Regions from separate parts of the Homo sapiens genome. Here all the other regions are linked to region 2. Evidence: fine-mapped expression QTL. A gene starts in region 2. Each other region holds a variant in brackets. All regions are shown on one strand. Distances are between the middles of the regions.

Evidence for each region. PIP is the estimated chance that this variant, and not a neighbour inherited with it, causes the effect. A credible set is the group of variants that fine-mapping cannot tell apart.
Region 1: its variant is the best candidate, but not a certain one, in a credible set for the expression of GALNT9 in lymphoblastoid cells (GENCORD, PIP 0.50).
Region 3: its variant is the best candidate, but not a certain one, in a credible set for the expression of GALNT9 in aorta (GTEx, PIP 0.60).

What each region holds. Positions count from the first base shown.
Region 1 is chr12:132,211,468-132,215,613 of GRCh38, reverse strand. The region is part of intron 6 of GALNT9 (polypeptide N-acetylgalactosaminyltransferase 9); the gene reads left to right. Among named protein-coding and RNA genes, the nearest start is that of LINC02361, 24 kb to the right of the region's middle. The variant T/A (reference allele first, on the strand shown) is at 2,081.
Region 2 is chr12:132,327,898-132,332,043 of GRCh38, reverse strand. GALNT9 (polypeptide N-acetylgalactosaminyltransferase 9) reads left to right here and starts at 2,455. Exons shown (of 11, transcript NM_001122636.2): 1 at 2,455-3,078. The coding sequence starts at 2,841. It overlaps LOC101928416 (a long non-coding RNA gene), which reads right to left and starts at 2,194. Exons shown (of 2, transcript NR_120467.1): 1 at 1,836-2,194; 2 at 469-585. RefSeq lists an enhancer at 3,817-4,146.
Region 3 is chr12:132,299,213-132,303,358 of GRCh38, reverse strand. The region is part of intron 1 of GALNT9 (polypeptide N-acetylgalactosaminyltransferase 9); the gene reads left to right. Among named protein-coding and RNA genes, the nearest start is that of GALNT9-AS1, 26 kb to the right of the region's middle. The variant A/G (reference allele first, on the strand shown) is at 1,870.

The DNA.
Region 1 (4,146 bases), 120 kb after region 2:
TTGGAGCCAACAAGCAGGATCAAGTGGACCCTGGGCCACGCTAGCCTTGCCTGGCCCTCGGAGTGGTCCCCGCACTCGCCAAGCCCTGGCATGGCAGCGCTCTTGGGAAAGGGAGGAAGCACGCCCTCCCTGGAGGAGCTGCTTGTGCTCTCCGTCGAGGCCAGCACACAAACAGCCTCACCAAGAGCGAGGGCCACACCCAGCAATCCTCCCCGGGCTGCAGTGGCATCCAGGCGGTGCCGGGCGCCGCGTCCTGGCCTCCATTTAGAAACTGACTGTGTCTCGTGTGTGGGGCCTACAGCCCGACAGGAGGGCTGGTAAATTGCAGCTCGGTGTGCGAGGAAGTACTTTTGTCCCTGAGAGCCTGGGCTGTGTCACCTGCAAACCACGAGAAAGAGCTGGGGCTCCAGGCAGGGCCCCGATGAAACCTGTGTCTGTTCTGCCGAAGCGGCCACAAAGCCACCCAGAGCTGCGGAGACCCGGCGTCTGGAAACCAACAGCGATTGTGTCGCGTTTCCTCCCAAACGCCCTTAAACGGGCAGGACAGCGTGGCAGGTGAGGACGCTGACAGGCCAGTCAGCACCAGCGGAGGGTGCTACAGAGGCCGGCAGGTTTCTCCACTCTCACAGCCTCACGCTGGCTTTGCCTGTCAGCCAGAATCTTCCAGATCCGCGTAGAACAGTGAGATGGGCCTCTGTGACGGGTGTGCATCCCCTGCTCTGCAAGATCAGGAGCTGAGCAGGAATGGCGTGCCACAGAACTGAGCAGGAACAGGGTGCCACCGCCTGCCCTGGTCTCCAAGTGGCTTTATCGTTATTCAGGACAGCGCAGCCAGCAGGCCAGGAGACAATGGCCATTGGTGAGATGGTTTGTTACGCACGGATCCCAGAGAAGGGGGTACCACCAGGCAGGGCCACCCAGGAGGCACCAGGCTGGACAGGAGGCAGAGGGTATGAGGGGGATGTGGCCAGGAATGGGCAAGGCCGGGTGAGCAGGCCTGGGGGGCCTGGCTTCCATCGTCTCAGCAGCTCTGGGGCATGGGCCATCCTCCTGAGTGGTTGGGTGGGAGGATGGTAGCCCAGAGTGAAGGACAGAGGCAGTGGGCTGTGGATTCGCGTTGGCTGGTGGGGCGTGGACTCTCGTTGCCTGGTTTGCATTTGGAAAGACGCTGGGGGGGTGCTCACTAGCTCTAGGAAATCACTCACCCGGGAGGGGCAGGCCTCTCGGGCTAGTGAGGTTCCAGATGTCAAAGCATCAGATACAGAAAATATGAAAGCATGATTAATACACGGGCTCCGCTCCTGCTCGCCCCCTTCATCCCTGGGCTCCTGCTGACGGTGGAGTCGCCGGTGTGGTGAGGGAGGGCGGAGTCGCTGGCCTGGTTAGGGACAGTGGAATCACAGGCGTGGTTCTCCAGCCATCTCCAAAGGAGCCACCATCAGGGACCTCACACACGGCACCCCGGAATCGGCTCTCTCTTCTCCAGGTGCCCTTGGGGTCAGTGCCCCTCCTGGTAATCCTTGTGAGGGTGGTGTCCCGGCTTTCACCTGGGAGGACTGAGGGGCCCAGACCCCCATCCCCACGCCTGACCTGGCAGGGAGCGGGGGTGGTTGAGGACTCGGAGTCGCGGGTGTCCCTGGACTCATGCTGCAGGGAGGGTGTGCGGACATAGGGGGTGGGGTTGGGCCTGCATCTCCAGGGCTGCTCCGTGACCGGGCTGTTCTGGACTGTCAGCGCCCACGCGCACCAACTGATGCAGTCGAGGCTCTTTCTTTCAGCTTCTGGGACGTGTCTGCATTCTGCTCGAGAGAGCTGGCAGCAAGCTGGGGCCTCCTCAGGTCCCCGGTGCCACCTGGAGAATGCAGAGGCCACAGTGGGCCTCATGTCCCCTGAACACCCCTCCTCGGACATGAGGGCTGACCCCAGAACCCCTAGGTGCTCACAGAATGAGCTGTCCCTGCAGGTACATCAGAGGCTGACAGGAATGACAGCTGAGTGCACATGTGTGTGAGTGTGTGTGTGTGACTGTGTGTAGGTGGGAGTGCCTGTGTGTGACTGTGTGAGTGCGCCTGTATGTGGG[T/A]GGGAGTGCGTGTGTGTGAGTGCGCCTGTGTGTGAGTGGAGTGCGTGTGTGTGGGTGTGAGTGTGCCTGTGTGTGGGGGTAACAGTGCATGTGTATGCTTGACTGAGTGATTATGTTGCACACGTGTGCATCTGCGGTGCATTTTCATGTGTGTGTGTGAAGAAATTGATTGATTCTAAGAATTGGCTCACACAATTGTGGGGTTGCCAAGTCTGAGATCCTTAAGGTGGGCAGTGGGTGGGTTTTCTGTGTCATGGTCTGAAGGCTGCAGACCCGGGTGGGGTTTCCGTGTCGAGGTCTGAGGGCTGCAGAACCGGGTGGGGTTTCCGTGTCGAGGTCTGAAGGCTGCAGACCCGGGTGGGGTTTCCGTGTCGAGGTCTGAGGGCTGCAGACCCGGGTGGGGTTTCCGTGTCGAGGTCTGAAGGCTGCAGACCCGGGTGGGGTTTCCGTGTCGAGGTCTGAGGGCTGCAGACCCGGGTGGGGTTTCCGTGTCGAGGTCTCAAGGCTGTAGACTCGGGTGGGGTTTCCGTGTCACGGTCTCAAGGCTGTAGACCCGGGTGGGGTTTCCATGTCACGGTCTGAGGGCTGCAGACCCGGGTGGGGTTTCCATGTCACGGTCTGAGAGCTGCAGACCCGGGTGGGGTTTCCGTGTCGAGGTCTGAGGGCTGCAGACCCGGGTGGGGTTTCCGTGTCACGGTCTGAGGGCTGCAGACCCGGGTGGGGTTTCCGTGTCACGGTCTGAGGGCTGCAGACCCGGGTGGGGTTTCCATGTCACGGTCTGAGGGCTGCAGACCCGGGTGGGGTTTCCGTGTCGAGGTCTGAGGGCTGCAGACCCGGGTGGGGTTTCCGTGTCGAGGTCTGAGGGCTGCAGACCCGGGTGGGGTTTCTGTGTCGAGGTCTGAGGGCTGCTAGACCCGGGTGGGGTTTCCGTGTCGAGGTCTGAGGGCTGCAGACCCGGGTGGGGTTTCCGTGTCGAGGTCTGAGGGCTGCAGACCCGGGTGGGGTTTCCGTGTCGAGGTCTGAGGGCTGCAGACCCGGGTGGGGTTTCCGTGTCGAGGTCTGAGGGCTGCAGACCCGGGTGGGGTTTCCGTGTCGAGGTCTGAGGGCTGCAGACCCGGGTGGGGTTTCCGTGTCGAGGTCTGAGGGCTGCAGACCCGGGTGGGGTTTCCGTGTCGAGGTCTGAGGGCTGCAGACCCGGGTGGGGTTTCCGTGTCGAGGTCTGAGGGCTGCAGACCCGGGTGGGGTTTCCGTGTCGAGGTCTGAGGGCTGCAGACCCGGGTGGGGTTTCCGTGTCGAGGTCTGAGGGCTGCAGACCCGGGTGGGGTTTCCGTGTCGAGGTCTGAAGGCTGCAGACCCGGGTGGGGTTTCCGTGTCGTGGTGTGAAGGCTGTAGACCCGGGTGGGGTTTCCGTGTCACGGTCTGAAGGCTGGCATCCTTCTCTGGGAACTCCCCACCCGTCTTTTCTCTCAATGCCTGGCTGGGTGGGGCCTGCCTGCGTGCACGTCCGCTGCCATGCGGAGTGTCCACTGACGCAAGCATCACTCACAGCTGCAGACATGGTCCCAGCAGCACCTCACATCCACTGAATAATGGGACCTTCACCTCCTGAGCAGATGTAAAACCGTCACATGGGCCACAGCCCACAGGCGTGGATTGCAGGGCAGGGGTGCAGTGTGTGAGCACGTGGCCTGCTGTTGGGGACCAAGTTTGGAGTCTGGCTGCCTCAGGTGCTGGCTGGGTGACTTGGACATACTCCTCAGCCTTCCGTGCCCATCTCCTAATTCCCACAAATGCTCTTGAAGGACCTGCCCCAGGGTCCCCTCGACGGAGAGGGGGAAATGCTCTGGGAAGCTCTGGGCCTGCTGCCTTTCACAGAGAGAATATTCGGGAAAACCACGGTGGAGACAGAGGATGAGGGACACAGAATGGCCAGGTGGACGAGAGAGGGTGGACGGAGTGAGCGGATCACAGTAAGACTGCGGATACACGGCTGTTTCTGGCCAGCGCGAAAGGCAGCTGCATGTGGTTTGACCGAATAGACACGAGGTTGCCTCCTCACTGCTGTG
Region 2 (4,146 bases):
ATGTAATGAAAAGTGCTTGATGTTTTCTCTGGAGTGATCATGACTAATAAAGTCAATTCTGGAGCCCAATTGTCTGGGCTTGAATCCCAGATCCACGCTTTGCCATTCACGCGACCTTGAGCAAGCCAGTTGCCCTTTGTGTGCCTCAGTTTCCTCACATGGAACGTTAGATGACGCCAGTGTGTATTACACCTTAACGTGGCTGCTGCTCGTATTGACCAGGTGATAGGCATAGAAGACCATGTCTGGTGAAACCTTTGCACTGCGTGTGTGCCAGCTACCTGCATCATTATTCCAGCAGCTGTCCTCGTAACGTCGGGAAACATTTTACAACCTGCATTTTATAAGCAGAAGAATACGGCATTTTCAGGAGGGACACGGGAATGGCTATTGATCAAAAACAGACCAGGGTTTATCACACTGGCTGCATAGTAATCACCTCCCGGATGATTAAAAACAGCCTCCCAGGCTCTGTCTCAGAACAGGTGATACGTATCTACGGTAAACGCCCCGCAGACAGCTGCCTCCGTCCCAGTGCCGGGTCCTGCCTGGTTCTGATCCTCTGGATTTCCTGGGATAAACATCCTGAGGAAGAAAAGAATGGCTCAACAAAGAAAGGAGAAATGGGTGTTCGGCTCGCCCAGCCTCAGCCAAGGGGCAGAAAACCTCCAAGCTGGATAGGCTGTCATGCCCGATGCCAAGAAACGGATATTTGAAGAATAGAGTACTAAGCTCAGAGCCAGAACCCCCCAGATCCCCCTACACACATGTGCATACACAGACACACACACACAGGCACATGCACACACAGATATACATACAAACACACACATAGACACATGAACACATGAACAAATGCAGATATGAACACACAGACATGCACACATTTGAACATGCACAGACCACACACATGAACAGACATACATACACAGAAACATGCACACACAGAGACACATGGAGAGAAACATGCATACATGTGAACATGCACAGACATGAACACACATGAACACAGAGACATATATACATAGAAACATGCACATATGAACACACAAACACAGACATGCACACACAGACACACAGACACTCGTACACAGATACACAGACAAATGCACACATGGACACACAAACACAGACACATAGATGCACACAGATATAGAGACACATGCACACATGAACAAACAGAGATGAACACAGAGATATGCACACATGTGAACACACACACAGACATACATAGACACATACACAAATACACACAGGCACAGACAGACACATGCACACGCATGAACACACACAGAGACAATGCACACAGACACAGGCACATGCACACACAGATACATGCACACACGGGCACACAGACATGCACACAGAAACACGTGGACACATGCACATGCATGCGTGCTGACAACACAGACATGCACATATGCAGATACACAGGCACACAGAGGCAAATGCATGCACACTCATGCACACACACGGACACACACACAGCCAAGAGCTGTGAAGCCCCTTGCCTTACTCATCTCTGTATGGAGAGCCAAGCACAGCCATGCTCTTAATAAATGCTCCGTCATTTATTCACTCATCCCGCAAATGTTTACTGAACACCAGCTATGTGTCCAATCTCTGGGAACACAGGGGTGAACCCTGCCTTTGGGTGAAACTCCTGCCTCTTGGGTGCTTGCATTCTGCCAGTGGAAGTTGGGCCCCTGTGCTGCGCGGCTTGGCTGACATCTCCCCTGGCTTCCAGGGTCTCCTCCACAAAACGCCAGTGTGGGGCCAGATCAGAGCCTGGGCTGGGGGTGGGGGCAGCCGGGGTTTGCGGCCTCGGGTCTTACCTGCGAGCCTGGCTCAGGGACGGGGCCTTCTCCCTCCTGGTGGCTCCAGGGCCCCCTGCTGTTCCCGGAGGTCCGGCTGCATCCCAAGCCCCAACCCCCCCATACCCGTCCCGGGACTCAGCTTCCCCAGTCCTCAGCCCTGGACGGGGGAGAGGGAGGGAGGCCGGGAGCTCGGCTTGGGGAGGGGTGGGCAGGAGACTACCAGAGTGGCCCTGACCCGGGTCCTGCCCCGGCCGCCCCCTCCCCCATTCACTCCCGGCGACACCGCCCTGGCCAGGCATTCCCGGAGGCCCCGCTGCCCTCGGGTCAAGCTTGGGGTCGATTCGGACCGTGCTGGCCGTTGGGGGCCCCGGGCGTCTGGCGGGTCCTGGGGAGGGAGGGTCCGCGCCTGCCCCGCCCCCGCTCCCCGCGCCCGCGCGCCCTTGGCCCAGGCTACCCCGCGCGCCCCGCCCCCCGTCCCCCGCCCCCCGGACCTGCTGTCCTGGGGTCCCCGGGGGGGCGCGGTGGGGGGGGCGGGGCAGGCGCGCGGGGCGGTCCCGGGGGGCGGCCTTGAGGGGTGGGGGAGGCGGGGCGGGGCGGTCCTGGGGCCGCGGTTGCAGATGAGGTGAGGTGAGGCCGCGTCACTCTGCACCGGCGCGGTGGCTGCGGGGCGGGCAGGACAGGAGCCGGCACAGACACCGAGCGCCGCCCGCCCGCGCCTTCCCCGCCGCCCCCCGGCGCCCCCGGCCCCCCTCACCGCTCCCCGGGGCGGGGCCGCGCCCTCTGAGCGGGGGATGCCGGCCGCGCCCCGCGACCCCAGCCCCGGGCAGCCCTCTGCGCTCTGGGGGACCCCCGGCGGCCGTGGCCCGGCGCGCTGAGCTGGTGCTGAAGGGACAGCTCCGGCCGAGCCCCGCAGCCCCCGCAGCCCCGGGCGGCTCATGGTCCCCGAAGCCGAAGCTGAAGCCCAGGCCCGGGCGGGGATGCTGGGGATGCCCCGCGGGTGAGGCCCCCGCTGCAGCCGTGTTCATGGCGGTGGCCAGGAAGATCCGAACTTTGCTGACGGTGAACATCCTGGTGTTCGTGGGCATCGTCCTGTTCTCCGTGTACTGCCGCCTGCAGGGCCGCTCCCAGGAGCTCGTGCGCATCGTGAGCGGCGACCGCCGGGTGCGCAGCCGACACGCCAAGGTGGGCACGCTGGGGGACCGTGAGGCCATCCTGCAGCGCCTGGACCACCTGGAGGAGGTGGTCTACAACCAGCTCAACGGTGAGCGGGGGCGCCGGGGCGGAGTGGGGGCAGCCCTGCCCGGGACAGTGGCCACCCCGGGCGCGATGGGTCAGGCCGGCCTCGGGTGCGCGCCCCTCTGCGCCCCTGTGGGAGGGAATATACAGGAGAGAGGAGAGGGAAGGGCCGCGGAAGCCCCTTCAGCAGCGGGCAGCAACCTGGGTTCCCCCCGCACCGGGCACCCACCCCTCCAGTGGAGACTTGAGGAATCCCCCTGCCCCCACAATGACGCAAACTTGCTCTCCGAGGGAACTTCTGCAGAGGATCTTTGGAGCTGCTCTAGAAGCAGGCAGTGCCTAGGTCCAGGAGTGTGGGGTGGGGGGCTGGCTTGGCGCTCCAGGAGTGGGGGCCGTCAGGTTTAGGCTGCGCCGACCCCTCCACTCTTGAAGGTGGGGAAAGAGGAGGGTGGGGACGCCACACTTGGGAGGCTGCTGGTGCAGTGTCCTTTGCCCCTGAGGTTCGAAGGCACCCCAAATGCTTCGACCACTGGGCTAGGCGGCCCCCTGTCCTGGGGGTGCCCGAGGCCGCGTTAGAAAGTTGTTATGGGAGAAGCTTGAAGCTGAGACCTGAGACTCCTGGGAGGATGGAGTTGAGGATCATGCAGGGCTTGGCAGGACTCATTACCCAGGGGGGCCCAAGTTGTGGCACCTGGGAGCCCCAGAATCCATGAAAGCCTCCAGCTCCCGGTGGGTCTGTTTCATCACGAGCGGACGTAGGTCAGCCCGAGGAGCAGCACCGGCATCACCACAGGTCAGGGCCAGCGGCCACAGCTGCTGAGAGCAAGCACTTTTCCAGCTGCTCCACCTTCCCGGAGGAGCAGCCGCCCCCAAGGCCACTCTGCACCGGGGCGCCAGGAAGGAGAAAGTTTGCATGTGCCTACATCACTAGCTGGTGTGGCTTTCCGTTCCGTGCCGATGATTCAGGCTTCTGCCTTGGCAGCCCCAGCAAACCTCCTCCAGAAAGCATCCGTAACAGGCTCGAGTGGGAGGTGACGGGAGCTGGGGTTACGCGGGCAGGCGGGGGCTCCGGATGTGCCTGCTGTGTGTGGGG
Region 3 (4,146 bases), 29 kb after region 2:
CTCCTCTGCTTCCGTTTTTGGTGGTGGATTCTGGGCAGCTGCCTCTCGTGTTAAATGAAGATGCCCTGGTGGCCCTGTGCTGCTCAAGGTGCCCGGGGTGGGGGCCTCTCTCCTGGTGACGAATCCACTCAGGGCGCCTGCCCAGCCTTGGGCAGTCACTGCATCCCGGCGGTGGAGGGTCTGACGGGGACTACCGGGTGAAGGCCACAGGGGTGACAGCCACAGTGTGCATGGGGACGGCTAGTCCTGAAATACACAGGGAGGCTTTCCCGAGAGAGAGACAGACAGAGGGTGGGAAACCGCGTCTTCCATGTCCACACACCGTCTCACCCCAGGGCTGATCGGAGCATCAGACTCTGCACAGGCCCCTGGGTTCCACCCTCGCCCCCCTTAGACGGTCACCGGAGTGGTCCCTCTGCATAGAAAACCTGACCACTGTGCCCACCCTCCTCTCTCCCTCTCAGCTCAAAGCTCCTCTGCGCTCCCACTTCCTACAAGGCTCAAAGCAAGATCCCAGCGGCACAGAAAGCTCCCACCCCGTCCCGTCCCCTTTCTGCTGCCACAGCCCTGACCTGCATGCGCAGCCACTCACAGGACACCTTCCTGCCCTCCTGGCCTTTCTCTTCCCTCCGACTCCTCTTCCTGGGGATCCTGCCCCTGCCTCTGACCCACACCTGCGTGGAAGCGGCTGCCCTGGGCTGGCACCTGTTCACCTGTGGGCATGATGGGGCATGAGCTCTGGGGGGCAGGCAGGTGTGTGCTGCGTTCACCAGGGCCACCTGGACCTGCCCCACCCAGGCAGCTCTTGGAATTTAGCAGACGCTCCGTGAGTTTTGATAATGGATGGGTGAATAAATGGCACGGCTACAAATTGACATTTTATGTTTGCAGCCATCAAAGTTATGTTTATGAAGAATTTTTAGTGACGTGGGGAAATACTCAAGACGTAGTGATAAAAACAGAATGCAGGCGGCAGACACCAGATACATGGATCGAACTGCGCTGAGGCATTACGTGATCTTACAGAATAATATGGAGTGTGAAAATACTGATACTAGTTTTCCCTGCAGCAAGAGACCCCAGGTGATCCTGTGTGTGTGTGTGTGTGTGTGTGTGTGTGTGTGTGTGTAGAATTTTCTACCAAAAGCATTTATGACTTTTCCAATCAGAAGTGATGCACTTTCTAATTAAAGTAGTGGAAGCATATATTGCTGGCAGTGAAACAAAACTAATCTAAACCTTCTGGAAAATGACTTGGCACCAAGATTCATGAAATTTCTCTATCTTTGACACAGTGGTTCAATTTCTGAAATAAGCAATCCTAAATATGTAATTAATAAATAAGTGATAAACACGTGAGCCCCTCGGGGTTGTCAGGCAGGTGTTTCTGTGGACAAGCGTCTGATGGATGTTACCTAGTGGTTGGAAGGTCATTGCTACGACTGCAATTGAATTCTACCTCTGACGGCACAGAAGGCATCTGTGGCCATAACTTTATGTGGAGGCAAAAAGCAAAATGCAGACCCCTCCATCTTGAAGGTGGCACACAAATGTTCCGTGCCCCCCTGGAGCCGCATCCAAATCACCTGCCCTGTCCAGGGTCATGAAGGTTGTGCAGGGCATGGGGGAGGCTGCATTTGCCAGGGAGGGCTTGGCCTCCCTCTCTGGCCAGCGAGTGGGGCCCCAGGTCCCTCCTCCAAGGGCTGGTTCAACCTGAATGTGTCCACATGGCATGTTCCTTTTCCGCGGCCACCAGGCAGTCCTCCTGCTGTGCCGGCGGTGAATGTTCGCACAGCCATCCCTACCTCCGGGTGGAATTGGGAGGGGCAGGGGCCGACGATGGGGCAGCCCCATGGACAGGGACCCTTT[A/G]TGTGCCCCGGAGGGGAAGTGTCCAGCTGGCACCTTGGTCTGGCTCAGAAACCCCTGTGTGGTTCTCGTATGGACCATTCCCACGTGCCCACCACAGCAGCACTTCTGTCTGTGAAACAGGGCGCGGAGTGGAAGCACAGCCGTGGTCCCCAAGGCCAGGCAGGCACTGTCACCTGCTTCTTTGGGAGAGGATGCCCTTCCTCTCCTGAAAGTGGAGCGACCATGGTTTAGTGGCTATTTAACGCCTTTGCCTGCCACCATACAGGGGTGGTGCCTTTCTTGGTCCCTTTGGACACCCTCTTTGAGAGCTTTGCAGTTCGGAGCACTGTGACGGAGTGTGGCTGGGGCTCACTGCCTCCTGGCCATGGGCCCAAACTTCAGCCTCAGGAGTCTCATCAGTTACATGGGGGTGACAAAAGCAGCTGGCTCGGAGGGAACCCTGGGGATTAAAGGAAGCAAAGCTTGTGCAACGCCTGCACGAGGAACGGTCAGTGCTGTGCTGTGAATGCGTCGCCCGCTGCCCCCACATGGGAAGCTTCACCCCCACCATGGCATTGAGAGAGGTCTGCAGGGGCTCTGCCCTCTCCAAGGGGTTAATGCCCTTAATGTGGGAGTGGGTTAGTTATGGGAGTGAGTTATCTCAGGAGTGGGTTGGTTATCTCAGGGGTGGGTTAGGTGTGGTGGGGGTGGGTTAGGTGTGGTGGGAGTGGGTTAGTTATCATGGGAGTGAGTTATCTCAGGAGTGGCTTGGTTATCTCAGGGATGGGTTAGGTGTGGTGGCAGTGGGTTAGTTATGGGAGTGAGTTATCTCAGGAGTGGCTTGGTCATCTCAGGGGTGGGTTAGGTGTGGTGGGAGTGGGTTAGTTATCATGGGAGTGGGTTATCTCAGCAGTGGCTTGGTTATCTCAGGGGTGCGTTAGGTGTGGTGGGAGTGGGTGAGTTATGGGAGTGAGTTATCTCAGGAGTGGCTTGGTCATCTCAGGGATGGGTTAGATGTGGTGGGAGTGGGTTAGTTATGGGAGTGGGTTATCTCAGCAGTGGCTTGGTTATCTCAGGGGTGCGTTAGGTGTGGTGGGAGTGGGTGAGTTATGGGAGTGAGTTATCTCAGGAGTGGCTTGGTCATCTCAGGGATGGGTTAGATGTGGTGGGAGTGGGTTAGTTATGGGAGTGAGTTATCTCAGGAGTGGCTTGGTCATCTCAGGGGTGGGTTAGGTGTGGTGGGAGTGGGTTAGTTATCATGGGAGTGGGTTATCTCAGCAGTGGCTTGGTTATCTCAGGGATGAGTTAGGTGTGGTGGGAGCAGGTTAGTTATGGGAGTGAGTTATCTCAGGAGTGGCTTGGTTATCTCAGGGATGGGTTAGGTGTGGTGGGAGTGGGTTAGTTATCATGGGAGTGAGTTATCTCAGGAGTGGGCTGGTCATCTCAGGGATGGGTTAGGTGTGGTGGGAGTGGGTTAGTTATCATGGGAGTGAGTTATCTCAGGAGTGGGTTGGTCATCTGAGGGGTGGGTTAGGTGTGGTGGGAGTGGGTTAGTTATCATGGGAGTGGGTTATCTCAGCAGTGGCTTGGTTATCTCAGGGATGGGTTAGGTGTGGTGGGAGTGGGTTAGTTATGGGAGTGAGTTATCTCAGGAGTGGGTTGGTCATCTCAGGGGTGGGTTAGGTGTGGTGGGAGTGGGTTAGTTATGGGAGTGAGTTATCTCAGGAGTGGGTTGGTCATCTCAGGGATGGGTTAGGTGTGGTGGGAGTGGGTTAGTTATCATGGGAGTGGGTTATCTCAGCAGTGGCTTGGTCATCTCAGGGATGGGTTAGGTGTGGTGGGAGTGTGTTAGTTATGGGAGTGAGTTATCTCAGGAATGGGTTGGTCATCTCAGGGATGGGTTAGGTGTGGTGGGAGTGGGTTAGTTATCATGGGAGTGGGTTATCTCAGCAGTGGCTTAGTTATCTCAGGGATGGGTTAGATGTGGTGGGAGTGGGTGAGTTATGGGAGTGAGTTATCTCAGGAGTGGCTTGGTCATCTCAGGGGTGGGTTAGGTGTGGTGGGAGTGGGTTAGTTATGGGAGTGAGTTATCTCAGGAATGGGTTGGTCATCTCAGGGATGGGTTAGGTGTGGTGGGAGTGGGTTAGTTATCATGGGAGTGGGTTATCTCAGCAGTGGCTTGGTTATCTCAGGGATGGGTTAGATGTGGTGGGAGTGGGTGAGTTATGGGAGTGAGTTATCTCAGGAGTGGCTTGGTCATCTCAGGTATGGTTAGGTGTGGTGGGAGTGGGTTAGTTA